Linked DNA regions of Homo sapiens: region 1 is linked to region 2. A link means that fine-mapping ties the variant in region 2 to the expression of a gene that starts in the linked region. Tissue or cell type: spleen. Region 2 holds a variant in brackets; the other region holds the start of a gene. All regions are shown on one strand. Distances are from middle to middle.

Evidence for each region. PIP is the estimated chance that this variant, and not a neighbour inherited with it, causes the effect.
Region 1: MEG9 starts here. The variant in region 2 is fine-mapped to the expression of MEG9 in spleen (GTEx, PIP 0.92).

Annotation. Positions count from the first base shown.
Region 1 is chr14:101,065,754-101,073,852 of GRCh38, forward strand. It overlaps MEG9 (maternally expressed 9), which reads left to right and starts at 4,158. Exons shown (of 2, transcript NR_047664.1): 1 at 4,158-4,302; 2 at 4,689-7,184. MIR410 (microRNA 410) reads left to right here and starts at 159; the gene lies at 159-238. It overlaps MIR656 (microRNA 656), which reads left to right and starts at 971; the gene lies at 971-1,048. LOC105370670 (a long non-coding RNA gene) reads right to left here. Exons shown (of 5, transcript NR_188195.1): 4 at 7,633-8,099; 5 at 6,225-7,147.
Region 2 is chr14:100,681,547-100,689,645 of GRCh38, forward strand. LOC105370668 (a long non-coding RNA gene) reads left to right here and starts at 5,388. Exons shown (of 3, transcript XR_001750887.2): 1 at 5,388-5,811; 2 at 6,093-6,194; 3 at 6,285-6,370. It overlaps LOC124903385 (a long non-coding RNA gene), which reads left to right and starts at 7,785. Exons shown (of 3, transcript XR_007064339.1): 1 at 7,785-7,870. RefSeq lists an enhancer at 7,392-8,099. The variant G/A (reference allele first, on the strand shown) is at 3,616.

The DNA of each region.
Region 1 (8,099 bases), 380 kb after region 2:
GTGGGGCCTGGTCACCGAGAGTGGGCCGGGCAGGGGTCTCTTTCCTGTCTCTGTGTCTTCTCACCTTTGATGTCCCATCCGTCCTCAGGACTGCTTCCCGGGGGCAGCGCTGGCACCACGGGACGCGGCAGCCACGTTCTTGAGCCGATGGCACTCTGGGTACCTGAGAAGAGGTTGTCTGTGATGAGTTCGCTTTTATTAATGACGAATATAACACAGATGGCCTGTTTTCAGTACCGCTACCGCCCGGTGGTGTGCGGGCGCCACGCCTGAGGCGGGACTTTCCAGGGTACGTGAATGCATGGGCTGGTGTGACATTTGTCATCCTTTCCCCTGACCCCCGCCATTGAATCATTTTGGGAGAGCTTTCGGGGGGCCATGTGGACTTTGGGGAAGATGCTAGGGTTGTGCACTGTGGTGGGGGGCGGTCATGAAGCTGATGAGCAATGGTGACGGGGCTCAGTCTGTTTTTCATGGCCAGTGTCATCGAGGCAGAGGACACGGGGGAGCTAGTCCCGCTGGAAGGCATCCTGCTGGAAGGCCACCCACCCCTCGCCAGGATGTTGGGGGCGGCTGCATGCATTCCCTGCACCTGGGCTGCCTTCTGCTCATCTCAGTGCTGTGAGACCCTGGGTGGGAGCTGGTGCCTTGGGTGGCCGTGTGCGTGTGCTGCTCCTTGTGGTGCCTGAGGAGAGGTGGCCTGTGTTGCATTCACAGAAATCATGACACACAAGACACGAGCGGCCTCTCTTCAGTATCAGATCCCACCTGCATGATTCCTGCACCTGCTGATGTCGGGGAGGTCCGGTTGCGCGCCCTGTGGGCCCCCAGAGGCATGGCTGGTGGCCGAGCACGCGCTTGACTTCCACCTGCAGCCCTGTGCTGGCCTCCATCCTGGAGGCGGGTGGGTGGCAGGGCCCTTCCCTGTGGAAGAAGCCTCCTCCCTGGAGTCAGTGCTGCTCAGTGGTACCTGAAATAGGTTGCCTGTGAGGTGTTCACTTTCTATATGATGAATATTATACAGTCAACCTCTTTCCGATATCGAATCCCACCTTGGATGCCTTCCTCTTTGCTGTCAACTCCAGGCAGCAGCTGGCTCTGCGCTGGTTGACCCTGTGGACTTTGTGTAGGACCTGTGTCACTTGGCCTGTTAATTTTCCAGCTCCACTCTGTTCTGGGGGGCTTTGGAAGTGTGACAGAATGGCATCCCCAATTCCAGTGTCAGCGGGAGCACCCGCCATGCCCTTGCTTCCGGTTGGCACATCCCCCAGGCTGGGCTGGCTCTCAGCTACCCGATGCTTATGTCATATTTGCACCCCTGGCCTGCCCAGACTACAGGAAGATGACCAGAGGCCTGTTTGCAGCTGACCTGGAGACTTAGTGACTCCAGAACATGCTGCCCATGCCCAGGGTCCAGGGCTGAAGGCAAGGAGCACCTCAGGAGTGACCCCAAAGAATGAGCTAAGGCTGTCCTTTATCACTCATTGTTGATCAGTGAGCTCCTGGGCTCGGGAGATCTTCCTGAGCTGGGCTCCCGTCATCCCCTAGTTGAGACGTCGCTGCCTTGGAAGTCACAGCCTGTGCCTGCCCTCCCCCTTGTCCTCCTCCTCGGGACCGCTCCTCTCCATGCCTAGCATGGGAGTGGGGATCCCTGGCACCATCCCTCTGGGCTGCCTGCTCCCACTCTCCCTCAGCACCCCTCTTCCCCAGCCCCTGGGCCACAGCCCTGCTGGAGAGGCCGCCCCACAGGCTAGGTCCCTCCAGCCTGTGGCACTTGGGTCTCCCTCCAGTGCCCCTCCCTCTGCCAGGGAGAGCATTTCCAAGTGCAGAGTCCAGCTGTTTAACTCCGCTGCCCAGGGCACCTCTGCAGGCCCCTTCCCTTGGGCTTGGTACCAAAATGATCCGAGGACCCCCCAGGCCCTCAGAGTGGCAGCCCCCCTCTTCTTTTGGAGCCACAGCCTATCCCCCACGTGTTTTCATCCTTCATTCTGGCCTTGCACATGCCCCTCCTTCCGGAGCTGGGTCCTGGGCCGCCCTGCTCTGCCCTCGGCTGCCTCCTGTCCAGGCTCTGGCCCTTCCTTCCTTAAAGGCCCACATCCTTTGCATTTTCCTTTCCCAGGGGTTCACAATTCCCAAGGGGATGGAATGGCTCTTGTTCAGCAAGGTCATCCCTGATAACCCTATAAAAGCAGCTCCCCTTGCCTCTTCCCTATCACATTCTACCAGTTGCCCCGTTACTGTTTTCTTCCTAGCTTACAGTTCTCTGAAATTGCCTAATGTTAATGTCTACCTTCTTTGTGCCCTAGACTGTGAGATTTCTCATTGGCAGAAATTTCTCTCTCTCTCTCTCTCTCTCTCTCTCTCTCTCTCTCTCTCTCATCCCCTGCTGTGTTCAGTAGCAGAACAGTGAGTGTTTGTTGATTGACTAATGGAGTCCCCAAAGGCAGGGACCGGATCAGATGAATTCCCAGGCAGGTGCTGGGCACAAAGCAGGCAGTCAATAAGATGTGGTGATGGAGTACATGAATATGTTAATTGATTTTTAGAAATTCTTCCCATTTGTTCAAAGCTGTTTGGTTTTCTAGCTTTTTCTGCCCTTCCAGGATGAGGCTGAGATTAGCTGCAGGAGGCACGAGTCAGTTGGGTCTGGGTTCTCTCTTCCACTTGTCGGGGGGTGGGGGCACCAAAGCCCCAGAGGAAGTGACAGGCCCTGTGTTCCCCTGCAGATGCCGACTGATCGCGCCCCCGCCCCTCCAGCAAACGCCCCAGCGCTGAGAGCCAAATGCTCTGGGGAACTCCATCTGCAACGGGCTGGAGCGTGGTGTTAGGGCTCATATTTTATGCATGGGGCTGACTAAATGGGAACATTTGGAGATGAAAATTGCTGTTAATGCATCTACACATCTTTGGAATATATTAAATGTGTGTGTGAGGGGAAGAGTGACATTAGCCTTATTTAATAGCTTCAATATAACCATCCCCGCACACCACGGCGTTAACAGGCACGGCCCCCCCGCCGAGTCTCCCAGGCCACCACTCAGGAAGAGTGCTGGGTGCATCACGCGCCACTTGAGAATTAGGGGGTGAGTCCGGCGTCGGCCCGGCATGCAGCAGCGTGCATGTTCCCCGCCGATTTCTAACCCAAACACAGTGACCCTGTGCCACTTGATGCAGAATTTCATTAAAAGCAAAAATGATTGATTTATCTATTGTTTGCGGAGAAGAAAAAATAAACAAAGGGCCTTTCTCATCAGATAAGCCAAATAAGAACGTGTGCCCCACAGGTGGCCAGGATGAAAGTCTCCATGGACCCTTCAACCAGAGGCTCTGTGACTTGTCCCGTCTTCAGTGCGGTGTGTAAACCCTGCCGCCGGTCCAAGTTCACGAGGTGTGCTCCCTTCTCCAGTGCAAGGGCCCGGTTTATCCCCACTATGTCTCCTGGACGTGGTTGGGAAATTGAACAACCTGGACCTCCGTTCCCATTTCCTTGTTGTTTCAGCGGGAGATAAGAGGAGAAGTAATAGCTGTCGTGTTGGGGCGCTTGCCTTGGTCCTGGGCCCCATCAGCTGCTGTGAGGAGACAGTTTCTTTTCCATAGTTGAGGAAATGGAGCGCAGAGAGGTTGAGTGAGTCAACCAAGGTCACCCAGCTGGAGGTGGGGCAGGGTCTGGCTCCAGGCTGTGTGCTCTCACCCACCCTGCTTGCACGGGCTTTAGGAATAGCCCCTGTGTCCTGGAAGACAGATCGCTCACCGAATGGGCCTCTTTTCTTGGTATCATATGATGAGGTAGGCTCACTTTCCCCCAGACTTAGCTTGCCAGAATATTCATGGTTTTTTCTCTGTACTCACCTGTCATCTCTCCAACTTGGTGCCATCACCCATGAAGTGGGATGCTTTGGTGCGTGTCTGGCCTGGGGAGAGGGCTGCTTGCTTTGTCAGAAGACTCAAAGCATGATGGGCATCCAAATACCAAAGACCTATGTTGACCTGTGTTTTTCACTCCGCTTGATGGCAGTTGAGGGCTATATTCACTGCCTCAGTTGCATGGAGTGAACAAGACCTAGTGAAGGTGGTGGGTGCGCTGAGACCATCTGGTTGATCTCTCCTGGGTGGGACCAGGTGCTCCCCTCACCACCCCCACCCTTGTCTGTGTACCACCACTCTGCACAGACACGTTGGCTGGTGCAGTCCTGGAGACCCACGGAGCTCACGGTCGTCAGGGGTCCTCAAGGATTCAGAGAACCCCCAAATGTCAGGGCTGCTCCCTTCTTGTCCTGCCTCTCTGCTCACACCCTTGGACAGGTAAGAAAACTGAGGTCCACAGAGGGCAGGGTGCATTGCTGTGGCTTTTGTTCTGAGCACTGTCTCCCCAGCTTTGGGGTTGAGACTCTGGGGTCAAGACCCACCTCTGATGAACGAGCGGCTTCCTTCTTTGTAAAAATTGAGGCGACCCAGACCAAGAAGGGCTGCAAAATCACCAAGCCAGGACCTCAATACCCAAGGGGCTGGGGTTTCGGCCACCCTGTGGCAGAGCTTTTAGAAGCCAGGGCCCTTGGCTCGGCAGTGCTGGCTCATAGTAGGTGCTTAGTTCATGCCTGTCTCCTTGGATGAAATCTGACCATAGACACCAGTGCAAAGCAGGTGTTCAACACAGGAGGGTGTACTGAACCCGATCTCTCTATCACCAGGAGGAAGCACACGGGAGGCACTCAGAGAACGTTTGTGGAATGAATAAATAAAAGCATATTTTGAGGGAATAAAGAAGCAGAAAAACAAAGAAGAATCTGGGGAAGATGGGCATAAATCTCCACCAAGTGCTGCCAAGGCTTCCCAGGCGAGGCTGCTGAAAAGACCCTGTGGAGGTAGAGGGACAATTTGTCATGGATGGGAATGGGCTTGAGGGCCGGGAAGCAGGGCATGATGGGGCCTCATTCATCATTTTCCCGTTATCCCAGCAGCGTGCAGGGGAGCAGGTACAGCACCTGCCTGTGCAGCTGCACTGCCTGCCCGAAGGCCCTAGGCCCTGGGCCAAGTGAGTGACCAGAGGGGGACTGGGAATGGAAAGGACCTCAAGGAAGGACAAGCTGAGCTCTGGGAGGCCACCTCCTCCAGGAAGCCTTCCCTGATTCATCCTTCACAGGCAGTCTCAATTTGCAGTCAGATATCCACTGCTCTGATTCTTAGATCAGCAAGTATCTCCCTACCCAGACTGCAGGCTCTGCTGGGGCCGCGGCTGTTTCTGACTTGTGCACAATGGCATCCCTGTACCTAGCACAGGACTGAGTCCAGAGAAAGTGCTCAGTGATGCTTGTTGGCCTTGTCTCTCCTCTGTGGGCAGCACAGGGCACCCGGCGGGTCCTGAGGGTGTGGACATCCCACGGCAGAGCCTGCGGTTGATCCCGACCATGAACCAAGGCCTGGGGCGGGGGTGGCCACATCAGGCCACTTCTGCCAGGAGAGATGTGGCTGTGAGCTGGGGGTCTGGCCTGTCCCCGGAGGCATTCCTTGGGTTTGCATCCATCAGAAGATCCACTGGTTGCCTCTATTTGGGCCTGGAGCAGGGATGGGATTTTTCCAAGGTACATGGGGTCTAGGGGAGACCCAGGCCCATTATTAGGGTCGGTCTTGAGAAGGCAGAGATCAGGCCACCACTTTATTTGGTGTAGCTCCTCGCTCCATTGGTGTGTGCTGAGTGAATGAATGCATCAGGGACTCCTGCTTCCTGCCCAGAGCCCCCTCCGCACCCCACACAGCCTTGCTCCAAGGAGAAGGGGTCAGAGCCAACTGGACAGTGCTACAGCATGGGGAGCCTCGACCAGGCTCGGCCCTCGACGATGGGATAGGCAGACAGCCCCCTGTGCAAGGCAGCTAGCTTGCAGGGTCCCGAGAGGCCAAAGGCCCTGGTCTTTCCTGGGGCAAGAGGCTGCTGAGAAGGTGCACAGAGCCTGGGTGCAGGAAACCATCCAGAATGCTGCTTCCCGCCATCTGTGAGATCTTCGTTTTCTCTAACACTCAAAAATAGATGTTTCTGTTATGCTCTCTCGTTGGCAGGGGAGCGGCAGGACCTGCCAAGGCCTGGGGGAGCCCGCCAGCCTGCTGAGTTCTACTGTACAAACAGTTGGGGAGGGGGCGCTGTCTCTGTTAACTTGAAATTCCCCGATCAGTAAACATGCCAATTTAAAGTGTAATTAACTCAGGCCGGAAAAAATTCAGATTTGGACTGCTTTTCACAGTTGAGGTTGTTTTTCTTTTATTTATTTATCTCTTTCCGGGTGTGGTGGTATCTGTGGCTGGTTTTAGCCAGGAAAAATAGAAGGGGGACCGGGTGGGGAGGGGGCTGGTTGGGAGAGGAAAGGCTGGAAGGAAAGGAAGAGAAACGGGCGGGTGGCCTGACACCCAGCAGCCAGGTGTCTATAGGTTTTCTGTCCTGGGAGGGGGCTGTCAGGGTGATGCCCGCCTGCAGAGAGGGGGTCATTCTGCGAGGTTGGGCTGCAGACCCCTGTGCCAGCGGGCCTGGTGATTCGGAAATGATGGGGCACTGTGGAGAGACCCCAGGAAAACACCCAGTGCTGCTTTTGACATTCTCTCTCCATCTCCCCTTTCAGCGGCTGCTCTGCCTGGGATAAACACATTTCAAGAGTCTCAGTCCCCGCTTTGCCACCATCTCCTCCTCTGATCTCCTTTCCTGCTTCAAAAGACTCCAGAATCTTCTCGGTTCTCAGAGAAGGCTGAATCCACCTATGACCTAGTGGGAGCACCCTGTGCCGAAACTGTTTACCTTCTGGTCCCCGGAGCCATGGGTCACGACCTGGGCCTCATGTAGGCCCGCTCCTCAGCAGACCCCAATCTGCGGCTTCTCCCACCTCACTGGGGAAGAAGGAGAGCCCTGGGGATGTGGAGAAGCCACCCCCCACCCCGCCACATCCCCCACATCTTACAGAATCTCGATTGAATCCCCGGGGGCACATCCCTCAGCAGGACAGCAACAGTCTTTGCCGCAGCCTGGGGAGGGCTGTGCTGGGGATGAGCGCCGAGTGGCCGTGGACTAAGTGAAGGAAATGACCATGCTCTTCTCCCAGCTGGATGGCGAGGCCGGGCAGGAACCGCGGAATTCCTGCTCTTCGTTTTCAAACACTTTGCTGTCAAGCTATTTGAATAATAAATACACATTATAAAAATGTAAATATGTTTGTGTGTCTGTATGTTCGGAGATGATGTTTGTTAAGCGGGAGGTTTAACAACGGAGGCCATCTGCCTTCAGCAGGGATTCGCACAGAATGTCACTGGCCTTCGCCCAACAAGCACTTTGCAGGGAGCAACCTCCTGAAGTCGGGGCTCACTCCTGGGTCCCCCTCCACTGCATGCGAGCCCCCCGTTCCAAGGCAGGAGCCAGGGTCACGAAAATGCATGCTTCTTCATCAATCCGAGGTCTCAAACGGCTCCCCCAGCCCCACTGCCTGCCCGTTCCAGGCCTGGGGCTGGCAGCCTGGGCCCCACGAGGGGGCAGAGGCCAGAGCCCGGCGGCAGAGCCCGTGCCCACGCCTCGCTGCTGCCAGCCTCCGCTTGGTCACGACACAGCCAGGCTGACTCAGACACAGCCCCAAGCGGGAGCCTCATAAATGACATCATTACCTATGAAACCTGCCGTGTAGTGCGCTAGCAGGGAAGGACACACTCTGGCCGCCCGGTGACTCACACTGTTTTCCCCAGAGCCTTCCTGCTCCACCGCCTGGGTCTGAGCTGGCTGGGCAGGGGGAGGGGGCACTCAGCTTGGCCTCACTCCCCCGCTCTGCTGCAAATGCAAAAGCAATCGGCCAGGCAGCCACCATCCTGCTGAGGGCTGTGTGTGGGGGTGGCGGGGAGGAGGGGGGGCACCATCTCTCCGGCCTCCCTCTGCAGCCCCAGTGGCGCTCCAGAGGGACTGTCAGTTGCCTATGACAGGGGAGGAAACTGAGGCCTAAAGAGGCCCAATGCCTGGCCTCACAGATCCCACAGGGGAGGGTGGCTTCGGCTCATGCTGGGAACCCCCAGGGAGACCCTTCGGCGAACCCAGCCGCTGGGCAAAGCTGCAAAACCTCTGGCTGTTCCTGCTGGGCCTG
Region 2 (8,099 bases):
TGGCAGCTTTAGGAGGCAAGGGCAAGAGCCAGGCCTTTGGAGAAAGTCTGGGAAGGGGTCTTCAAAGAGGAGGGGGACTCGGGTCCCAAAGCCACAGGAAGAGGTGTTTCAGCAGGAGGGACCAGTCGGCTGCCTGGGGTGGCCACGACAGGAGCCGGGAGGGGTGTCATCGGCCTGGTAACCTGGGTCCTTGGCATCCTTGGGAGTGGGGGTAGAAGCTGGCGGGGGGCAGTGGCACTGGGTGTGAGCAGCTATGAGAAGATGGGGAGGACAGGCTGAGCTGAGGGGAGGGTGGGCGGGGATCTGCCTCCTGCCCCGTAACCCTGATGCTCACAGGGGCACTCCAAGGAGAGAAGGTTCACTCCGTCCCCTGCCAGGGATTGTCTGTGGGGGGCTCCGGGGGCTCTGCAGGACTTTGATGGACTCCTGGGGAGGCAGCTGTGGTTGTGGAGGGGACGCTGCTGCCCCCCGGAGCTGAGTTCATTCCCCATACCCTGCTCATCATGGTGCAAGCTGTCTGGGCCTCGGCTTGCTCATCTGCACTGTGAAAGCGCCAATGGGAACGTGCCGTGTGCTCCGGGTTGTGGAGAGGACTGGACGCCAAAGGTCCCCACAGGCAGGTTTTTCTGTCCCCGAAGTAGGTGGCCAGAGTCTCATAGCTTCTGATGGAGACTTAGCACTCAGTCTGGACGAGCCTTGGGGAGTTGAAGTATGGGCCTGCCCCTTGGCAGACTCAGAGCTGGCCCTTCTGTAAGTGTGCATTCAATCACATGAAAAGTGCCCAGGTCTGAGGAATCATCTGTTACCCAAGTCTCTTGGCAGCTGTCTCTGCTCAACGTGCTGGAGGGGCTGGGAACCACAGAGGGGCTGGCAGGGGCGGGCCAGCCTCCAGTAGGACCACGGCTTTGGTTTTCCATCTGTAAGTGGGGCTGTGGCTACGTGAAAGTGAGCCTGGAGGCCCGCGCCCCCTGAATCCTGATGAAAGGGTCTTCTGCTGCCTGACTATGGGAAGGAGGGGCCATATGGACCTGGAGCATGTTGACGCTGCCAGGGTCTTCCAACTGGACACAGAGGCCAGTCTCTCCCTTTGCAAGGGTCTTCCTTCAGCTGGCCTCAAAGAGAGGCTTCCAGGACCAGAGGGAAGGAACAGGGAGAGCCAGAGCCCACCTCCTCCTAACTCTGCCCACATTGCCCATGGCAGCTCCGTTTCTCCTCTGGAAGCCTCTCCCAAGGGTTGAAGAGAAGCTGGACCCTCCCAACTCCACACACACTCTGAAGATATGCTTCCTATCTGTGCACACATGATCATAGCAGCATCACACACAGTAGCCAGAAGGTGGACACAGCTGAGTGGCCACTGAAGGGTGGATGGAGAAACAAAATGTGGTCAGTCCACACGATGGAATACTATTCAGCCCTGAAAAGGAAGGAAATGCTGGCCCAGGCTACAACATGGGTGAACTTGAGGACATTATGTTGGGTGAAATAAGCCTGTCACAAAAAGTTAAATATGATTCCCTTTATGTGAAGGAGTCAAAATCATAGAGACAGAAAGTAGGATGGAGGCTGCCAGGGCTGGGGGACAGGGAATAGGGAGTTAGTGTTTAATCTTTTGGGGTTTCAGTTTTGCAGGACGAAAGTTGTTCTGGAGACAGACAGTGGTGATGATTGCACACCAGTGGAAATGTACTTAATACCACTGAAATGTACACTTAAAAATGGTGAAGATGGTAAAGATTCTTTTACTACAATTAAAAAATCAAGATTTAGGCTGGGTGCGGTGGTTCACGCCTGTAATCCCAGCACTTTGGGAGGCCGAGGCGGGCGGATCACCTGAGGTCGGGAGTTCGAGACCAGCCTGACCAACATGGTGAAACCCCACCCCTGCTAAAAATACAAAATTAGCCGGGCGTGGTGGTACATGCCTGTAATCCCAGCTACTCAGGAGGCTGAGGCAGAAGAATCGCTTGAACCCGGGAGGTGGAGGTTGCAGTGAGCCAAGATCGTGCCATTGCACTCCAACCTGGGCAACAAGAGTGAAACTCCATCTCAAGAAAAAAATAAAATCAAGATTTGTATTTCATTAAGAGTTCATTAAATCAGTATGGTTCACAATAACCGTCCTTTGCTGTCAAGCTATTACGAAAGATCTCATCAGAAGTCTGCATGTCACTCTTCTTCTCTTCCTTCCTTCCTCACCCTCACGCTTGTTGGTCAGAGCCCTCTCTTAAAGGAAGAAAGCCCAGGGCTCCTGGCCTCCAGCCCAGAGCTCCAGGGAAGGGGCCGGCCATGTCTGAGCTAGGGAAGAGGCTGCAGAAGATAAAGGTTCTGGGGACATGCTCCAAGTTAGAAAGCCAGGTAAGGCTCCCTGACGTCCGCCCAGCAGGACAAAAGCAGACAATTATGGGATGCACCAGAGTCGTGCAGCCCCTTTGGCCCCTGCAATATCAGACGCTTCAGAGACCTGACTGTCTTGCTGTTTGGCTGACGCCGGCCTTAGAAGAACAAGCAGGTCAGAGGATGGAATTAATTTCCTAAAATTGAATGTCATGTTGAAAAGTCATCTCAGGATTTCCTGCCAGAGGGAAGGAGAAATGGCCATTTGGTCTTTGCTCTCTCAATAGCCTGTTGTAGCCTGCCACTTACATCTTTAGTTTTGGGTTGAACCGCATGAAAGTGCCATGTGTTAGGGCAGGAATCATAGAAATAAGCACGTTTATGTAGCATAATTGAATAAAAATAACAGTGAAAAGGTGGTTCCAGAGATGAAGGGAAGAAACAAAACAGACCTCGGCTCTCTGTTTTCTGGGGAAGTACCGGTACTGAGATATCAGATCATTTTGCACGTAATGACACCCCAGTGCTGTGATGAAATTGTCACCAATGCATTAGAGGACTTGAAAATGATATAGCCTCTTTGGAAATGAATAGGCAAGCACGTAGGAAGAGTTATCAAAGGCCAGATGCCCCTTGTTAAGCAGTCCTCCTCCTCCTGGAGATATGCTTCTAAGAAAACCACCTCCAAAGAAGGGAAAAATCATTTTCCTGAAGGTGTTCCACGCGGTGTGAGTTTGACCCTGAAAATCGGAGGTGGCCTCTGCCCTGGGTAACACCAGGACAGCTAAACCCGTAATAGATGCCAGAGACGGGGCAACAGGAACCCCTCCATAGAGAAGGGAAAATCAGACCAGTATGGCGCCGAAGCCCCCTGGTGAAAATGCCACTCATGTTGACCCTGTCCCCAGAAGTTTCCTCTAGGGAATTTTACCTGGTTACTCTCACGGTAGCTAAAATCTGTCAGTTTCATCACTTGGAAGTGGAAGCTTCAGGGGTGAGACCTCTGTGTGTGTGTGTATTTGTGCATGCTTAAAAAACCTCCAACAGGCTGGGCGTGGTGGCTCACACCTGGAATCCCAGAACTTTGGGAGGCCGAGTCAGGATTGCTTGAGCCTGGGAGCTCAAGGTCAGTCTGGGCAACATAGTAAGAGACCATCACTAGCAAAAAAAAAAAAAAAAAAAAAAAAAAATTAGCTGGGCATGGTGGACCTGTAGTCCCAGCTACTCTGGAGGCTGAGGTGGGAGGATCAATTGAGCCCAGGAATTCAAGGTTTCAGT[G/A]AGCTATGATTGCACCACTGCACTCCAGCCTGTGTGGCAGAGAGAGACCCTGTTTGAAAAAAAAACAACAAACAAACTCAAAAACAATAAAACCCTCAAACACAGAGTCAGCTAATGAAACAAGACAGGGGAGCGGGCAGAGATCAAATCCGGCCGTGCCTCAGGCTGCCGCAACAGAACTGGGGGCGGCTGGGTGGGGCGTGGGGTCAGACGGGTGCTTCCCTACTTTTATCAGAATGGGCTTTAATGCTTAAGGCTCTCATCCTTTCTTTAAAGATAGAACAACAACAACAACAAGAAAGCTGGACCCAATCTGTGCTCAGACTTGCGGGGTTGGCTCACATTTCCTTCTCGGCCAGGTGTCCTCTGTTACTTTTTGCGCCCTCCCAGGACCTCGAGGGAACCAAACCCTGCTACCCCTCCACCTCAGCCCCCTCCACCTCAGCCCCCTCCACCGCAGCCCCCTCCACCACAGCCCCCTCCACCACAGCCCCCTCCACCTCAGCCCCCTCCACCTCAGTCCCCTCCACCGCAGCCCCCTCCACCGCAGCCCCCTCCACCTCAGCCCCCTCTCCACCACAGCCCCCTCTCCACCTCAGCCCCCTCCACCTCAGCCCCCTCCACCACAGCCCCCTCCACCTCAGCCCCCTCCACCTCAGCCCCCTCCACCTCAGCCCCCTCCACCTCAGCCTCCTCTCCACCTCAGCCCCCTCCACCGCAGCCCCCTCCACCGCAGCCCCCTCCACCTCAGCCCCCTCTCCACCTCAGCCCCCTCCACCTCAGCCCCCTCCACCTCAGCCCCCTCCACCTCAGCCCCCTCCACCTCAGCCCCCTCCACCTCAGCCTCCTCTCCACCTCAGCCCCCTCCACCGCAGCCCCCTCCACCGCAGCCCCCTCCACCTCAGCCCCCTCTCCACCTCAGCCCCCTCCACCGCAGCCCCCTCCACCTCAGCCCCCTCCACCTCAGCCCCCTCTCCACCTCAGCCCCCTCCACCTCAGCCCCTCCACCGCAGCCCCCTCCACCGCAGCCCCCTCCACCTCAGCCCCTCCACCGCAGCCCCCTCCACCGCAGCCCCCTCCACCTCAGCCCCCTCCACCACAGACCCCTCTCCACCTCAGCCCCCTCCACCTCAGCCCCCTCTCCACCTCAGCCCCCTCCACCTCAGCCCCTCCACCTCAGCCCCCTCCACCTCAGCCCCTCCACCTCAGCCCCCTCCACCTCAGCCCCCTCTCCACCACAGCCCCCTCTCCACCTCAGCCCCCTCCACCTCAGCCCCCTCCACCACAGCCCCCTCCACCTCAGCCCCCTCCACCTCAGCCCCCTCTCCACCTCAGCCCCCTCCACCTCAGCCCCCTCCACCTCAGCCCCTCCACCTCAGCCCCCTCCACCTCAGCCCCTCCACCTCAGCCCCCTCCACCTCAGCCTCCTCCACCTCAGCCCCCTCTCCACCACAGCCCCCTCTCCACCGCAGCCCCCCCTCCACCTCAGCCCCCTCCACCTCAGCCCCCTCCACCTCAGCCCCCTCCACCACAGCCCCCTCTCCACCGCAGCCCCCTCTCCACCGCAGCCCCCTCCACCTCAGCCCCCTCCACCTCAGCCTCCTCTCCACCTCAGCCTCTCCACCTCAGCCCCCTCCACCTCAGCCCCCTCTGCTGCCACAGTCCCTTCAGGGTCCCAGGCAGCTTCACCAGGAGTGGGTTGGGGGCTGGAGAGGCAGGAGGGGGAGGGGAAGAGGGGAATCCTCCCAGCAGGAAAGAGCCACTCAGCTGAAGGGGCCTGGGGGCTGCCCAGGGCTCACTCCCATCTGACCGCGCCCACCATCCCACTCTCTCTCCACCACCCTCCCCAGGGCTACAAACTCCTTGCACAGGGGAGGAGGGAGAGCCTCCAGAGGGAGCCCCTCTTCCTGGTCCCGGGATCCCAGGCCTCTTCCTCTCTCCCTGGTTGCCTAGGAGCGGTCATTGTTCTGAAGCCCCAGAGCAAAGGGGATCTCAAACAAATGCTCCATCCTGGGGCCTTCCTGCTGGATCTGACATTTGGGATGTTTTTAATTCCTGGAGAGACAGATTTGCCACAGGGGAGAAATGACCTCTCTGTGGGCCGCTCCTGGTTAGGCTGCCTAGGACGCAAGGGAGCGAGGCAGGAGAGACCATCTCTGTTTTACGGGGCTCTCCCGGTATCTTCAGAGAGTCCAGGTAAAGGCCTGCCTTGGTGCCAATGGCAGAAACCTTACTGGCCCAGACCAGGCCTGGGATTCCTGTGGTGCCCTCGGCTCGCTGCTAGCATGGTCTCAGAGGACTCATGTTGCCCCCATGATGGGAGCCCATGCAGAGTGGGTGGGTGGAGAGGCCAGGAGGCGGCAGGTGCAGATGCGTGTTTGAGGATTGCGTGCAGGGAGGGCGAGGCGGGGGCCCGTGGTCAGTTAGGATCTGTCCGTTGTCAAATGCAGGGAATGAAGTGGCTCTCTCTCTTTCAGGCCAGCGCCAGGCAGGTGGACAGTGTTTCCAGTGGCCTTCCTGTGGCCTCGACATGGTCAGCTCCCGGGCTGCCTCTGTGGCTAGCTCTGGGACCTTCCCAGGTGCCACATCCCTGGCTCCATGGGACCCTCTCCAGGCCTGGGGCCAGCAGGACCCCTGGAGATGTGCCCCTCTTTCTCTGGTTCACACAGCACCATCGACTTGGCCCCCAGCATGTCCTCAGCCACCGTCATCATCTCTCCATCCCTCAGCCACCGTCATCATCTCTCCATCCCTCAGCCACCGTCATCATCTCTCCACCCCTCAGCCACCGTCATCATCTCTCCATCCCTCAGCCACCGTCATCATCTCTCCATCCCTCAGCCAACGTCATCATCTCTCCATCCCTCAGCCACGATCCCAGTTGAGGTCACATCCTACCCACAGGGGCCCTACTGTGCCCCAGGTCCCTCGGCGACCAAGCTCCGGTCCTCATCTCACGTTCACTCTGAACCAAGGCAAGCTGTCTGGACTTCCACCCTGACCATGCCACTGCCCTGCTCACAGCTGGGGCCTGCCAGCCTCGGGATACAGTCCTTGGTCCCCCATTCCAGCCTCTCCACCAGGCCTGCCTCCCTCCAGTCATGTGGCAGCCGTGCATGTGGCCCCTCACTCCGGCCTTGGCATGCCTGTTCCCTGTGCTGGGATGGCCCCATCGTCCCCACCTCACCCTCTGCTTCCTGGCTACCTCCCTCCTCCTGAAGCTCCGCTTACTCCTCCTCTCCTCCAGGAAGCCCTCCCTCACTACCTCCCTCCCGGAACTTCTCCTCCACTTTGGGGCTAACTCTCCCTTCCTGGCCCCCCACCCCCAGCCCAGTCTAATTGGAGTGTGGCCGGAGCTTCAGTCAGGGCAGTGCAGGTTAGCAAATGGTTGTGGATGAGTGCCTGTGGGCATGTATGGGCTTCCAGTTGCCTCTGCAGGACTTGGGTGGGGGAGGAGGTACAGCCCCCCGGGTGCCCCCGTCCACTCCCCTTACCGTAACACCGACCTTCACCAGCCCTCCACTTCCTGGTGAAAAGCAGACCTGTGGCCTTGGGCGTCTGCAGCAAGGCCTCAGCTTGGGTCGCTTCTCTCCTGTCAGCGTGGGCCAGCGTGGGCTGCTGTGGCCCCGGCTGCTCCAGGTTGGGGGGATTAATTGGCCTGTTGCTGGAGGCAGGCAGAGGCTGGACGGCGGGTAGGCAGAGCAGGCGAGGGGGACCCAAGGCCTGAGCCCCTGTGTTTGCGGGGTGAGGGCAGTGTCCCTGGAGGGAGGGGGTGCTTCTGGCCCTAGGCGAGGGTCCCTGGTGAGCGCCTCTGCAGGGACCCATCCACAGGGCAGCCCACATTAGCATTCTCTGCACAAGAGTTTGCAAAGGAATGACTCACACTCTGGCTGACTAATTTGAAAGTAAGCTGCTTTTGCTGCAAGAAGGTTCAGTGAATCTTAAAAACTGCGTGATGGAGATTTTATTCCTTGTTCTAGACCTTTCCTTCTGCCAGGAAGGTGGCTCTGCCTCGGTTTACGCCTTTGGTTTGCTCACCTGGGGAAGTGGTTGGGGGATTGCGGGAAAACTGAGACTCCCAGGCTTGGCTTGCTTAGTGCTCACAGGTCGCATGCCCTCGGCAAATGACTGAACCTCACCGGACAGCAGGGCGCACCCACGGCACAACACACACATTTGGCGGAATGGGGACCCAAGCCCTGCTGAACCAGGATGAGGACCTCCTCCCACACGGGGTGGTGGGCTTCACAGAGAGGTACATGAGGGGAAGGATTATTTTCCCCTTTTACAGACAGGTAGCCCAACAGTGCAGAGAGGTTAAATCATCCATCTGAGGTCACACAACTGCTAGGTACAGAAGGTGGGATCACCCCACCGGGCTGGTCACTGCCCTCAGCCTTCCCAGCTTAGTTCCCCACCCTGAGTTAGAGCAGAGCCTCAAGCTTGAGGAGATGACTTCTTTTCTTTCTTTCCTTCCTTCCCTT